Homo sapiens: one gene and its partners. The protein of the gene in region 2 purifies or fractionates together with the protein of the main gene of each other region. This does not show direct contact. Each region holds a gene or a part of one and is shown on either strand. Other genes may lie near its edges.

Region 1 (3,500 bases), on a different chromosome or scaffold from region 2:
AAAAATAAATCATGGCACTGTTGATTCTGATATTTCAGAAACTGGCTAGTTTTAAGGGCAAAAGGGAACTGAGTGGCCATTTTGTGCTGGATTTGGCACAGTAACATTAACCCATTTCATCCTCAGTGACACTTCAACCTCCTTTTACAAATGGGGAGACTGAAGCTCAGAAAGATTGACAGAATCACCCAGAGTTACTCTTCAGAACCACAGACAGAATTTAAAATCCCGGTCTCCAAACTCGGGATTTTCCGCTTGATTCTCCCGGTTTTGAAACCTTTTTGGAAGAGGCTGTTATTGATGTTGGCTATTTTTAAGTCCATCTTAATTCTGCTCTAAGATTTCTCATACAGTGCCAAGCACAGTAACTTGAACACAGAAGGTTCTTTAATAGAAATGCGTTTACAGGATTTTGATACATCATGGCTCATCCAGTTTCTGACCTTTCCCAGTTGAATTAAATATCCAGAATTCATCTTAAAAACCTTAAGAATAGCTGACTCAGGGGTGTGTGCCTGTAGTCCCACCTCTTCCTGAGGCTGAGGCAGAAGGATCCCTTGAGCCCAGGTGTTCGAGGCCAACCTGGGCAACATAGCTGAGACTCCATCTGTAAGTGAAAAGAAACAAAAACCTTAAGAATGAGTATTAGTAATGTTTTGAATGATATTATTTTGTCCCCAGTTATTCTTTAATAAAACTGCCTAAACTTAACAGGTAAATGAATTTTTCATCCCATTTCTGTTGGAAATTAGCTGTGCAGATAACTTTTATATAAAATAAGAATGTTGAATTTAGATAATCTCTGATATTCCTTTTTTTTTTTTTTTTTTTTTTTTTTTTTTTTTTTTTAGCGCTTTGTAGCCCAGGCTGGAGTGCTGGTGGCACAGATCGTGGCTCACTGCAGCCCAGAACTCAGGGCTCAAGAGATCTTTCCACCTTAGTCTTAGTCTCCTAAGTACCAGATACTACAGGTACGCATCGCCACACCTGGCTAATATTCATATTTTTTATAGAGATGGGGTCTCCCTATGTTGCCCAGGTTGATCTTTAACTCCTGGGCTCAAGTGATCTGCCTTGGCCTCCCAAAGCGCTGGGATTATAGGCGTGAGCCACCTTGCCTGGCCCTAGAAAGTTGTTACGGTTTAGAGCACCACTAAGTATTGCCTGAGTGTTTTACTGCTAATTTGATAGGCAAAAATTAATGTTCTAATTTTTTAGTTGATCAAACAATTTATTCATACTGAGTAAAGCATAAAGAGTCCAAGAAAGAAATCATACATGAGTGTTTTAGACTTAGCAGTAGTATTTTGGGGAAGTTACATATAGTACAGTTAGACATTTTTGCTAGCAGCTACCTCCAGTTGGATGATTCTTACATCACTTTTGTTTTGATTGTTGGTACCCACCCCTTTGAGATAAAGTCTGATGAAAGTTATGGACCTTCTTCTTGGAAAAATATACGTCTGCATGTAATTCTGCATTTTATTTCAGGAGATTTTGGACTCTCTGCAGACTGTCCCTGGATCTTGGGTTAAAAATCTGTATTCTAGACTGAACCGTGGGAAGAAAAAATAGTCAGTGAGTCTTTGGCAAACCGGAGTACTGGATTTTGTTTAGCAATTGCAAATTCCTGAACATACTGGATTTACTGGGTAGTGCCAAGTTTAAAGGGAAGTAAGCCAAACTCCAAGTATTATGTTTTGCTAATTTGGCAGCTCGAATCAAGAGTGGCTGTGAGATTATACATGGTTTGACTTGTCATTGGTAGACTTCTGTTGAAACATGAATTAACTAGTCTTTTAGAAAGTAAGTATAGATGGAATAAGTATGCCTAGTTTTTGGCAACTTTCTCCTAATCATGAATTTATCTTTAAGCTTTTTTTTTTTTTTTCCTTCCAGAGGTGATTCCTATGCACATGCTCTAATTTCCTTTTAATTATTAGTTTCTTTCATAGCTTAGTTTTTACTTCATGGCTTATCAGGATGCTTAATGGTAAATTGGGTACAAAGAGGTGTGTGAAGCCTTGTGGAGGGGCTAGTTTTAGGGCTGGGGGTGACTGGGGAGAGTAGCTATGGCTCTGACTTATGTGATGGGGCGGCAGGGTAAACACCAGCCTGCTCAGTGATGTTTAGACTTTAACACTCATACAAGTAACGGATTGTAGTTTGTAGTTTGACTCTCTCTAGTTTCTCAGTTACCTTTTGCTAACAATAGCTTTTTCGTTTGTTTGTTTGTTTTTTGAGACGGAGTTTCACTCTTGTTGCTCAGGCTGGAGTGCAATGCGCAGTCTTGGCTCACTGCAGCCTCGTCCTCCCAAGTTCAAGCGATTCTCCTGCCTTAGCCTCCTGAGTCGCTGGGATTACAGGCATGCACCACCACGCCTGGCTAATTTTGTATTTTCAGTAGAGACGGGGTTTCTCCATGTTGGTCAGGCTGGTCTCGAACTCCCGATTCAGGTGATCGCCTGCCTCTGCCACCCAAAGTGCTGGGATTATAGGCATGAGTCACCGCACCTGGTCAACAATATCTTTTATGCTACAATTTTTCAGGATAAGTTTTGTAGAAACAACCATCCTAGCAGAATAGATTGTTTTGTTTGGGAATCTCATATATGTGTGTGTGTGTGTGTGTGTGTGTGTGTGTGTGTGTGTGTGTATGTATTTATGTATGTATGTATATGTTGGTCTAATTCAACTTGCTGTGAACACTTTAAAGCTATTATAAGTTAACATTTTTTTCCTAGTCTTTTTGCCTTTCACCTTTGTTTATGATAAATTTGACCTACAGAAGTTTTAGATATTTGTGGCTAAATAAAAGATTTTAGGCTGGGCACAGTGGCTCACACCTTTAATTCGAAAACTTTGGGAGGCCGTGGTGGGCGGACTGCTTGAGCCCAGAGGGATGGACAGTTCCTCTGTCTCCTGCCCCATGCCTAGTCTCTGGCAGTCTTCTCTGATTTGGTCTCCCTGCCTCTGGTCTCTGCCCTACAGTTGTAGCTGTCTCATAGCATTGTGCCTGATGGTATCGGACTGTGGTAGGTGCTTAACAAATACTTAGTGTTTAGCAGGTACTCAGTCAACACACAGTGCATTAGCTCTGGAAAGAGTCTTACTCTTATTGATTGGTTGGTTGATTGATTGCCTGATTGACAGGGTATCACTCTGTTGCCCAGGCTGGCCTCAAACTCTTGGGCTCAAGTGATCCTCCCGCCTCAGCCTCCTGAGCAGCTGGGGGCTACAGGCACAAACCACCACACCTGACTCAAGATTCTCACTCTTTTTTTTTCTTTTATAGAGACTATGTTGCCTAGGCTGGTCTTTAACTCCTCGGCTCAAGCGATCCTCCCATCTTGGCCTCCCAAGGTGCTGGAATTACAGATGTGAGCTATCACGCCTGGCCATTTTTTTTTTCTTGAGACTGGGCCTTTCTTTGTCTCCCAGGTTGGAGTACAGTGGCACAATCTCAGCTCACTGCAGCCTCAACTTCCGGGCTCAAGCAA
Region 2 (4,199 bases):
TGAGGTCAGGAGTTCAAGACCAGCCTGGCCAACATGGTGAAATCCTGTCTCTACTAAAAATACAAAAATTAGCCAGGTGTGGTGGCAGGCGCCTGTAGTCCCAGCTACTTGGGAGTCTGAGGCATGAGAATCACTTGAACCTGGGAGGCAGAGGTTGCAGTGAGCTGAGATCACGCCACTGCACTCCAGCTTGGGAAACAGAGCAAGACTCCGTCTCAAAAAAAAAAAAGAAGACCTGCGGCAAATTACTTTTTCCTACATCCTAAGGTAATTGTGATAATTAAGTGAAGTAATATGTGTAGAGCCCTTAGAACTTTACAATATTTGTAAAACCCTTAGAAGTTATAAAAATTATTTAATATTTAAATAATTTAATGAATGTACTTAATTCATTTAGTATTATGTATAAATATAAAATTATTTTATATTTGTAAAGCCCTTAGAACCGTGCCTGGCACACAGTAAAGCTCTGTTTGCAAATAATATTTTGGCTCACCAGTAGACCACTAGTTCATACTGCTTGATGATAAGCTATTCCGCCTCATTCGTCCTTGACCCCCTAAACAGGTCTATGCCTTGGTTGCTGGGAAGGTGTGTTGGCTTTATTAACAGTAATAGTGATATGTCCTTTTACCAGGCAATTGCATGGACCAGTATTTATAGGGAAGTTTGAGCCCTGCCGCAGAGGGGTTAAGTGATGGGAAAATGCCTGCCATTTTCACATGCTGTTACAACCAGGCAGTAAAAGTCCTCAGAAGTTAAATTTTAAGTAATCAGACTGGCCACTTTCCTTCCTCTGGGAATGCAGTTGGGATGGAGGGCTCTGTCTCTAGTTGGAAAGAAGTCTGAAGTCCCCTCCTGTGTGGACACCAGACAACAGGTATCCCAGGGCCCTCTAGTTGACCAGCAATACTGTGGAATGAAGACACCCTCAAGTCACATTTGAAATCATTCCGGGTTCTTCCAGTTCAGCACCTTGACTGTTTTCCTCTTCACTGGGAAGGTGCTGGCAGCCTGACGGCCTTTTAGGCTTCTTTTAAGTTTGGGGCATCTGAAACCCGGCCAAGGTGCGGCGGGTAGTGTACTCATTCGAAGGAGAATACCCCCAATTCACTAGACGAGCCCCTAATTGGGGGTGCGGTGCCGGGCGCGCTCTTTCCTCCCCCTTTCCACCAGCACTGCCCTCAGTTCTGCTTCTAGCCACGCCCTTTCGCGTTCACGTCCAGCGCCCTGGCGGGATTGATTTGAGGACGACTGGACTGCCATTGCGCCTGCGCAGGGAGCCCAAGGCAAGAGCCGCTAGGCTGCCCTGCCCGAAGGGCTCAACTGTCAGTGAGCCTGCGCAGGAGGCCAATAGGCTGCCAATACTCCTTGGACTCCCCGCCAGGGCCCTGCTGTCAGTGCGCCTGCGCGCGGGTCCGGCGCCGAGGTTCTTGACTGCTGTGCCGGACGCCAGGTGTAGCCATGCAGCGAGCCGATTCCGAGCAGCCCTCCAAGCGTCCCCGTTGCGATGACAGCCCGAGAACCCCCTCAAACACCCCTTCCGCAGAGGCAGACTGGTCCCCGGGCCTGGAACTCCATCCCGACTACAAGACATGGGGTCCGGAGCAGGTGTGCTCCTTCCTCAGGCGCGGTGGCTTTGAAGAGCCGGTGCTGCTGAAGAACATCCGAGGTAGCGGCTCCGGAGGGGCTGAGGGGCGAAGGGCGGCGACCTGGGGCGCGGGCCAGGCGCCCTGAGGGAGGGGGCCCCACGAGAGGACCGAGGCCGAGGAGCGAGCCCTGCGGCGGGAGGCACCCGGGAGGGCGGACCTGCGCTGGGGGCGCCGAGGAAAGGAAGACCCGAGGCGGGGGAGGGAGCCCTGCGGCGGGGGTTCCCAGGAGGGCCTGCGGCATGGGGCTCCCGGGACTGACTCCCCGAGGCGGAGGAAGAAGACATGGGGTCGCCTGGGATAGGCGATTCGTAGGATGGGAGCAGGCTCCCGGGATTGAGGACCTGGGAGGGGCAGTCGTAGATTGGGATCTCACTCTCGTGGGTTTCTTCACTAACTTGCCACCCCGGCGCGGGACAAGCGAGACTCGGGTCCCTTTTTTTTAGTTAGAAGGAGATTTTTCCCCAGACCTTGGTGGGCGGCTTGCTGTCATCCAGGCTCGCGGGACCCCTCCGCGCTAACCGCAGCTCCTTGAACACTTGCCACATCAGAGGATGTTCTGGGGCTTTTAGGTTTCGGTTTCCTCCCTGAATTGAGGCTTTTCCTGAAGGGGAAGGAACTGGCTTGGTTAATCTCTGAATTCCCATCACCTTCCTTGGCATCCCAGCAGCGCCCGATAGGCGTGTGTTGACTGCACTTGCAGAACATGGTAAGGAACATGTTTTGCTCTTTAAAAGCAGGTTCCCCTCCAAAATCTGAACCTTGGGGTTGTTCAGTTGACCACTGAATCCCCAGCATGCCACAGTTTGGCCACATCCCCTGGAGAAGTGTTTAGGTTGAGTTTTAATCATATTTTACTGATTCGTATCCAAGCATCCATCCTTGTGAATTCTACTCAACTTTTTGTGGTGGGTGTGAGATTTGACTCCTGCCTTATATCCTCTAGGTGTCCAATAGGAAGGTGATTCTTTGGTGGTTGGGATTTGCAAATTTAGTAAATTTTTGCATTTGTTAGGTGGGGCCCTGTTTGGCTAGGTTGGAAACTGGGGTAGGAGGAACATTAGTGGTTCAGGACCCAAAGATAGCTTGAATGGGTATGGGAAATTGCATTTCTCCTTTTTTTTTTTTCTTCCCCCTTTTGCCCTTTCGTTTCCCTCCACTGCTGGGATGGATTATTACTTTATTTTCTTTGACTAGCAACAAGTGGAGTGAAGTAGTTCCATATTTTCTGTCTCAAAATGTGGTTGGCTCTCTGTTTCAGTGGTTTGTAGATTAACTCGTTACCCTCCAGAATGATGTGTGTTCCTTAAACCTACAACCTATTGCTATCAAAGACACTATGTGCTTTCATTTGGTAAAAACTGACCAACTGTTCCCAATTGCTCATGTCTTAGCTTCTGCTTTGTCTTGACCAAACTTTATTCGGACTTCTCTCTTCCCTTATGGGCCCCTCAACTCTTGCTTACCCCCAGATCTGACCAGGCAGGCACTAAAGCAGTGGAATATGCCTCCCTCTGGTCAGTTTCTTTTGAGAACCGGCTGACCACAGTAGGATGCTGTCCTGTTGGGCTACACTGCTCATTTTCCCTTGCTCGTCCAGGTTCCTATCCAAAGATTCTGCTTATTTCTGCTTGCCCGTCCTTTATCATATAAAAGAAGACCCTTTTTCTGTTGGATTCTTTTTTTTTTTTTTTTTTTTTTTTGAGACAGAGTCTCGCTCTGTCGCCAGGCTGGAGTGCAGTGGCGCCATCTCGGCCCAGTGCAACCTCTAACTGCCTGGTTCAAGCTATTCTCCTGCCTCAGCCTCCCGAGTAGCTGGGATTACAGGCATGTGCCACCACGCCCAGCTAATTTTTTTGTATTTTTAGTAGAGATGGGGTTTCACCATGTTGGCCAGGATGGTCTCCATCTCCTGAACTCGTGATCCGCCTGCCTCAGCCTCCCAAAGTGCTGGGATTACAGGCGTGAGCCACCGCGCCCGGCCTCATTTTTTTTTTTTTTTTAATTAGAGACAGGGTTTTGCCATGTTGGCCAGGCTGGTCTCAAACTCTTGGCTTCGAGTGACCATCCACCCACCTCGGCCTCCTAAAGTGCTGGGATTACAAGTGTGAGCCACCATGCCCAACCTCTGTTTGGTTCTTGGGCCTCTGTTTGATTATTTTTTAAAATTTATTTTATTATTTTATTTTTTTTCTGAGATGGAGTCTCGCTCTGTCACGCAGGCTGAAGTGCACCGGCACAATCTCAGCTCACTGCAACCTCTGCCTCTCGGGTTCAAGTGGTTCTCCTGCCTCAGCCTCCCTAGTTGCTGGGATTACAGGTGCACGCCACCACGCCTGGCTAATTTTGTGTTTTTAGTAAAGACAGGGTTTCACCATGTTGGCCAGGCTGGTCTCCAACTCCTGTCCTCAGGTGATGCATCCGCCTCTGCCTCCCAAAGTGCTGGGATTACAGGCGTGAGCCACCGCGCCCGGCCGGCCTATGTGTTTGATTCCTGAGCCTCTTGCAGATATCTGATATTGGAGCTTTCTCCCTGTAGAAATAGTCTTT
Region 3 (3,500 bases), on a different chromosome or scaffold from region 2:
CAGCCCTGAAGAGGACACCATTCCATTATAGGATGCACTCACACACCCGCACTCATTCAGACTGGAACCACTGAGACGTTCCAAGTAACCTGACAGGTGCAGCTTTGGAATTGGGAAGAAACTGAAGTACCAGAGAAAACCCATGTAGACGTTAAAGGGAAAGTGCAAACTCCACAAAGACAGTGGCCCCAGCTGGGAATCATTTCTATTTTTCATCAATATTAATGAAATGACATTACTTGAGAACCTGCAGCATCCCTAAATGCACAGATGTTCCTATATTCTAAATGCTCTGATTGAAAATAGAAACATGGGCCAGACGCGGTGGCTCACGCCTGTAATCCCAGCACTTTGGGAGGCCGAGGTGGGCAGATCATGAGGTCAGGAGTTCAAGACCAGCCTAATGAACATGGTGAAACCCCATCTCTACTAAAATACAAAAAAATTAGCTGTGGCGTGTGCCTGTAATCCCAGCTACTTGGGAGGCTGAGGCAGGAGAATTGCTTGAACTCGGGGGATGAAGGTTGCGGTGAGCTGAGATCGCACATTGCACTCCAGCCTGGGCAACAGAGCGAGACTCCACCTCAAAAAAAAAAAAAGAAAATAGAAACGTGCTTAAACACATACATGTATTCACACACACACTCTAAGACTCCTCCCTACCTATCCCTGTCCCAGGAAAACAGCCCCCAGCCTCAGCACTGTCCAACCAGACATTCCCCCTCTCCTGGCTGCTGCTCCACCCCTCCAGATGGCTCACTCACCACCAGGGTACTCAGGCCCTCCCAAAGTAGTAGCCCCTGCATCACTCCCCTCTTCCTTAACCATCGCAAGGCCTAATCTTAGAGGGATCCACGCCCACCTTGGCACCATACCTCTCCAGTTAGCAGCTTCAGAAGAGTTGACTTCCCTGCTCCATTGGGCCCTACCAGAGCCACTCGTGTGTCAAGGTCAATTCCAAATTCTAGATTATTGTAGATGCAAGGCTGAGGTGGGGATGAGAGAGATGTGGACACAAGGCTAGAATACAGATCTGCTATGACCAGCAGACCAAGCCCGCTGAATTCCCAGTCACCAAGAGAGGAGGAAGGGAGAGTAGCGGGAGGAAGCACTCATAGCAGACCCCGCCTCGCCCACTGCCTCCGCCCACCAACCCAGCTGAGTAGTCTTCTTTCCATATACACGAAGAAAGGCCCGCGAGCAGCCTTGGATGAGGCACCCCAGCTGCCACACCTGAAAATCCCCCAGAGCACGTGGGCTAGCAGGTGTGGTCAGCACAGAACAGGAGCAACTCCCATGAGCTGCCACTCACCCTAAGATACACCCCAGCCACCCATGCCCTGCCCTGAACTTACCCCATCTTTTGTATACTTGAAGCTCACATTTTGCACCATAATGACAGGTGGAGGGATCTTGCCACATGGTGGGAAATAAAATGACAGTGTCTAGGAAGAAAAGAGGGCATTTATCAAGTTGGCTCCTTTCTTATCCACCTCACCTTAGGCCACCCAACCCCACCCAATCACACCCCACCCAATCACACCCCACCTTATCGCTCACGACCCTCTCTGTCAGTCCTGATGCCATCATTTTCTGTAGCGTCTTCTCCTTGCTCTGGGCCTGCCGGGCCAGCTTGGCACTGCCATGACCAAACCTCGCAATGTAGTTCTAAAAAAGACCAAAGAGAGCTTGGAGTATGTGCAGGCGCTCAACAATTCATCTTCAATCCAGGGTAAAAATGTTGATCGTAACTTCTTCCCGACATCCTCCATCACTACCGCTTCTCGAAATGCCCTCATCCGAGCCCCCTGCTTCTTTCAGACAGGAGGCCATGAGCCTGACTCTGCAGTCTCCCTACCTTCATGTGTGCAATCTGATCTTGCTCCCAGTGAAACCTCTTCATCTGGTTCTCCTCCAGCTCTAGCCGCGTCTTCACGTACTGATCATAATTACCCTGCATGGAAATGTGCCAGGTAAGGCAGGCAGCTTTAACCTGGGTTTCAATCCTGGATTCTCACTCAGAGTTTAGGGGGATGAGGGATGGCACTAACTTGGCCCTGGCTCTAAGGCTGTGCAGTAAGAAGAGAGGACGTGCATTACAGAAGCATATCCTAACATCAAATCGGAGTCTTTTCAATTCTATGCCCCTCGCTCAGCCCAGCCAGGGCCAGGCTCCAGCGCAAATCCTTAGGTTAGCTAGAAAGACACCTGTGGCACTGGGAATAGTCCTGAAAATCACGGTCATACGGACGTCACGAGGCTCAGAGCCTTCCAATACCACCTCCTATTCCTTCCCCGTTCCCTAGAGGCTGAAGCCCCACAAAAGACTGCAAGAGCTGTCTCCAGAGGGGAAAACAGACCATTCAGATTTAGAAGCTGACAAACCCTGCATAAGTGGACTACCATGGTTTCTATCTGCAAACAAAAACTGGACTCAAGCTAAATATCCACCAGAAAGGGCCTAACAAGTTACAGGATAAACACATAACGAAATACTATGCAGTGACTGAAAAGATTGTGATTGATTTATATATACTCACATGGAAAGCAGTCCAAAATATACTAAATTTAAAAAAGCAACCTACAGAATGATTATTAAAATTGTAACTGTGGCCAGGTGCAGTGGCTCACACCTGTAATTCCAGCACTTTGGGAGGCTGAGGTGGGTGGATCACTTGAGGCCAGGAGTTTGACAGCAGCCTAGCCAACATGGCGAAACCCCGTCTCTACTAAAAATATAAAAATTAGCTGGGTATGGTGGCATGTGCCTGTGGTCTCAGCTACTTGGGAGGGTGAGGTGGGAGGATCGCTTGAACCTGGGAGGCAGAAGTTGCAGTGAGCCAATATCACGCCACTGGACTCCAGCCTGGGTGACAGAGACAGACCCCATCTCGAGAAAAAAGAGGCCGGGTGCGGTGGCTCACGCCTGTAATCCCAGCACTTTGGGAGGCCGAGGCAGGCGGATCATGAGGTCAAGAGAGGGAGACCATCCTGGCCAATATGGTGAACCCCATCTCTACTAAAAATACAAAAATTAGCTGGGTGTGGTGGCATGCGCCTGTAGTCCCAGCTACTCAGGAAGCCGAGGCAGGAGAGTCCCTTGAACCTGGGAGGTGGAGGTTGCAGTGAGCCCAGATCGCGCCACTGCACTCCAGCCTGGCGACGGAGCAAGACTCCAGCTCAAAAAAAAAAAAAAAAAAAAGCTGCAATTGTATAAAAAGAAAAAGATTACGTATACATGACATTTTCTACAAATGTGTGCAAGTATACATGAAGTTTCTGGAAGGCTATATTATAAACTAATACTCCTATGACTATGAATGAAGAGGACATCAATCGTTAGTTTCTTACATGCTTTTTGAAATATAAAATGAAAAGGCAAGGCACAACAGTGGGCTATTGAGATCCTGACCCCCATTCTCCTGTGGTCATGGGAGGTGGGGTAAATGTGTAGACTCCAGTGAAGCAGAATTAAGAAGGCATTCAAGAAGGCAGAGGGA
Region 4 (3,500 bases), on a different chromosome or scaffold from region 2:
AATCATGCACACACTTTTCAGCAAATATATTCTTTTCAATCTCTAGAAGTGAAAATCTAATATTGGTAAAAAAAACTTGTATTTAAAGCAGAATAATAGCTATTTCACACAAAAAAACTCATGCAATCAGGAATACTGGAATGTTCTGGCTGTTAGTGTTACTGTTGGCTTAATTATAAATTTTAAAACCTATCAAAACAACCCTTAATTATAACCATTAAAAAGTTAGTAAACTAAATCCCCTTTCCAAGCTTTTAAATAAAGAGTATTACTCTTCTATCAACCATAATGTGAGTATGGTAAACATATATTATCTCTTAGTATTCCCCACAGCAATGAGCTTGTTCCTTTGAAGATTTGGGACTTTAAAAACATTTTTTTAAGATATTAGTTTTATACTAGTATTTCAGGATTCCAAGTGGTCTTGGGTTCTCAAATTCCCATTAACTATAAAGAAAAGAGATGAATGCAAAAAAAATTTCAAGTAATACTAACAAGACTACATCTTTAGATTATGGTATTTCACATTAAAATATTAAACCAAGTAACTTACACTCTATTCCCTTGAACAATATCCACATAATCTTCAGATCGTGCATAGTATCCATCAGGACTCAATGCTCCCCAGAAATTGGACCACAGCTTTCCATGACGAGTTACAAGAGGAGCAATGATCTTTCTAAAGACAGAGAGAGTGTGTGTGAGAGAGAGAAACCTATATAATTATTTATTTTTAAATTACCACAGAATTATGTATTTTGGGCTTAGTATGACATATAACACAAGAAAGCTCATTCAACAAACCTGTAGTTAATAAAAATAAAATAAGGATCTTCTTTCCCAACATCTTTTCTTAAGTAAGTATATTGCTAATTTTCAATCATATTTCTTAAAAAGAGTAACAAAGAAGGAAAAAGTAATTGAAAATGCTAATGAATACATAAAAATGACTTTTAAAAATGCCTTGCTTACATCCAACAGAGGGAAACTACTTTAGTTATTTAATTATATTTAAGTTTAACTAAAGTATTTCGGAACCTATATTAAATGAAACCAAATATTTTCATTGTCACTGGGTGAACAACAGCCCCTGGTGCATTTAAGATATTCAATGAATATTTGTTGAATTTGTAAAAAATGAATGAAGATGAACTGAGATGTTTGTAAACAGGCAAAGCTTTCCTGTAATTAAGTCTCAAATTACTTAAGTATGTTTCCAGTTTTCCATGACTTTAAAAAATGACTTGTGATTACAGTAAGCTAGTCCTGGCAACACTGAACTTTCCTTTAACTATTTTAGAAAGCAAATTTATGGAACAACTATTCTTTATATGAAAAAAGAAAACCTATTTCACCTCTATCTTGTGAAGACCAGCCGGGCCCTTTCTATTACATGCACAAAAGTGAAATAAATAAACACACATCGGGCCCGGCGCAGTGGCTCATGCCTGTAATCCCAGCACTTTGGGAAGCCGAGGCGGGCGGATCACAAGGTCAGGAGTTTGAGACCAGCCTGACCAACATGGTGAAATCCCATCTCTACTAATAATACCAAAAAAAGTTAGCCAGGCATGGTGGCACGCACCTATAATCCCAGCTAATCAAGAGGCTGACACAGGAGAATCGCTTGAACCCGGGAGGCGGAGGTTGCAGTGAGCCAAGATCATGCCACTGCACTCCAGCCTGGGCGACAGAGCAAGACTCCATCTCAAAAAAATAAATAAATAAAAATAAATACACATCATGCAAAATAATAAATTTTGGTTTATTCTTCCGAATTCCTACTAAACTATTAATCAGAAACACATGTTTTGTTTTGTTTTGAATACCTACAATACTGGAAATAATAACATGAATTAGAATCTACATACATTAATTTGGGAAATAATTCAATATGAATATCAAACATTTAATTTAAAAAGAACTTGTAATTTATAATCCCAGCTGCCTCCTGAAAAGGTTTAAACCAACAAATTTGGGAAACCAAAATTCATCTGCTGTATACCTCAATGTTTTTGTGAATAAAAATGTAAGGATGGCAGCTGAGGAATGATTCATATTATTATACAATTTAAGGAGTAAAATTTAGAGCAAGGGAGCAAATAGAGATAGGGAGAGAAGAGGAAAAAAGAGAGCTGATGAGAAGGTAGAAAGCCACATGCCCAAGATGTGTCAAATCTCTTTCTCTACTCTTCAGTCCAATCTACTAAATCTTGCAACATTCCTGGCATATGTCAATAGACTATAGAAACCACATGTCTAGATACAGAAGCAAGAACCATAGGTATTACATAAACCTAAACCTTTGATTAACTAACAGAATTCCATGGAGACACAGCCTGAGTTTTACTCTTTAAGGGGCAAGGGCCCCAGATGGCAGGTAAGTCTTTTTCTTTTTTTTTTTTTTTTTTTTTTGAGACGGAGTCTCGCTGTGTCGCCCAGGCTAGAGTGCAGTGGCGCAATCTTGGCTCACTGCCAGCTCCACCTCCTGGGTTCACACCATTCTCCTGCCTCAGCTTCCCGAGTAGCTGGGACTACAGGTGCCCGCTACCACGCCCGGCTAATTTTTTGTATTTTTAGTAGAGATGGCGTTTCACTGTGTTAGCCAGGATGATCTCGATCTCCTGACCTCGTGATCCACCCACCTTGGCCTCCCAAAGTGCTGGGATTACAGGCGTGAGCCACCACACCCGGCCGGGAATTTTTTTTCTTTTAGAAGATTTAAAATGTTTAATATTAAGAGGGATATATGTCAAATACATAGTGTAAATTCATTAAATAGTTCACTAAGAGAATAATTAATAAATATATAAATTATAGTCATAAAATGAAAATATCTAATTATTAAAAAGCATATGGGCATTACACACTATAGCATTTCAATCAAATTAAGAGAAAACAATGCAAATTCAAGAAAATAGTACTGAATTAAACTAGGTTTTAAGAGTTACAAATCATACACTATTTCATATCTCTAGGGTGTCACAACTGCTTTTCCTTGCCAAATGATCAAAACCTCATTCATATGCTTTGGAAAATTACCTACGATGTATATAGATAGTTAACTTAGATACTGAGTATCTATAACACAGCTATACAGTTGGGCTGTATATACAGGTTGCTACAGAGAGGTCTTAGATTTTTGAAGTAAGAACTAAATTCTCAAATTTACAAATTCTAGTGATATATATATATAGATAGATATTATATATAGGGTGGGTTAATAAAGCATACTACATTTCCCATGTATCTTACTTAACAAAATAAAAACAATCATTCTAACATTTCACCCGCTAAACATTCTATTTATTATGAGAAATAATTGTGTTAATACATGTACTTACAACAATACCTGGCACTTAATAAGCACTTGTTAAAGGTGAGGTCTTAGCAGGAGTAGTAAAAATGGTATTATTAGTATTAGCAGTAGTATTGACAAACAAACTTAGTATCATTGTAAGCTGATATACATGGTGTCTTTTTCCCATTTCAATTGAGTT

Evidence for each region. Proteins that work in one complex are often made in the same cells at the same time.
Region 1: the proteins of SAMHD1 (region 2) and OAT purify together in Homo sapiens (affinity purification with mass spectrometry, with the first as the bait; one large-scale study listed by BioGRID). This does not show direct contact.
Region 3: the proteins of SAMHD1 (region 2) and ABCF2 purify together in Homo sapiens (affinity purification with mass spectrometry, with the first as the bait; one large-scale study listed by BioGRID). This does not show direct contact.
Region 4: the proteins of SAMHD1 (region 2) and PLOD2 fractionate together in Homo sapiens (co-fractionation; one large-scale study listed by BioGRID). This does not show direct contact.

What each region holds. Positions count from the first base shown.
Region 1 is NC_000010.11:124,412,424-124,415,923, reverse strand, and holds part of OAT (ornithine aminotransferase, mitochondrial isoform 1 precursor), read left to right. Parts: intron 1-851; exon of another isoform or gene 852-971; intron 972-1,491; exon of another isoform or gene 1,492-1,806; intron 1,807-3,500. UniProt on the Homo sapiens protein: Catalyzes the reversible interconversion of L-ornithine and 2-oxoglutarate to L-glutamate semialdehyde and L-glutamate.
Region 2 is NC_000020.11:36,948,909-36,953,107, reverse strand, and holds the start of SAMHD1 (deoxynucleoside triphosphate triphosphohydrolase SAMHD1), read left to right. Parts: upstream 1-1,399; 5' UTR 1,400-1,464; coding exon 1,465-1,672; intron 1,673-4,199.
Region 3 is NC_000007.14:151,217,206-151,220,705, forward strand, and holds part of ABCF2 (ATP-binding cassette sub-family F member 2), read right to left. Parts: intron 1,955-3,500; coding exon 1,859-1,954; intron 1,669-1,858; coding exon 1,549-1,668; intron 1,446-1,548; coding exon 1,356-1,445; intron 987-1,355; coding exon 876-986; intron 1-875. Other genes in the region: ABCF2-H2BK1 (ABCF2-H2B protein), read right to left, coding at 876-986, 1,356-1,445, 1,549-1,668, 1,859-1,954.
Region 4 is NC_000003.12:146,081,185-146,084,684, forward strand, and holds part of PLOD2 (procollagen-lysine,2-oxoglutarate 5-dioxygenase 2 isoform 1 precursor), read right to left. Parts: intron 680-3,500; coding exon 554-679; intron 1-553. UniProt on the Homo sapiens protein: Forms hydroxylysine residues in -Xaa-Lys-Gly- sequences in collagens. These hydroxylysines serve as sites of attachment for carbohydrate units and are essential for the stability of the intermolecular collagen cross-links.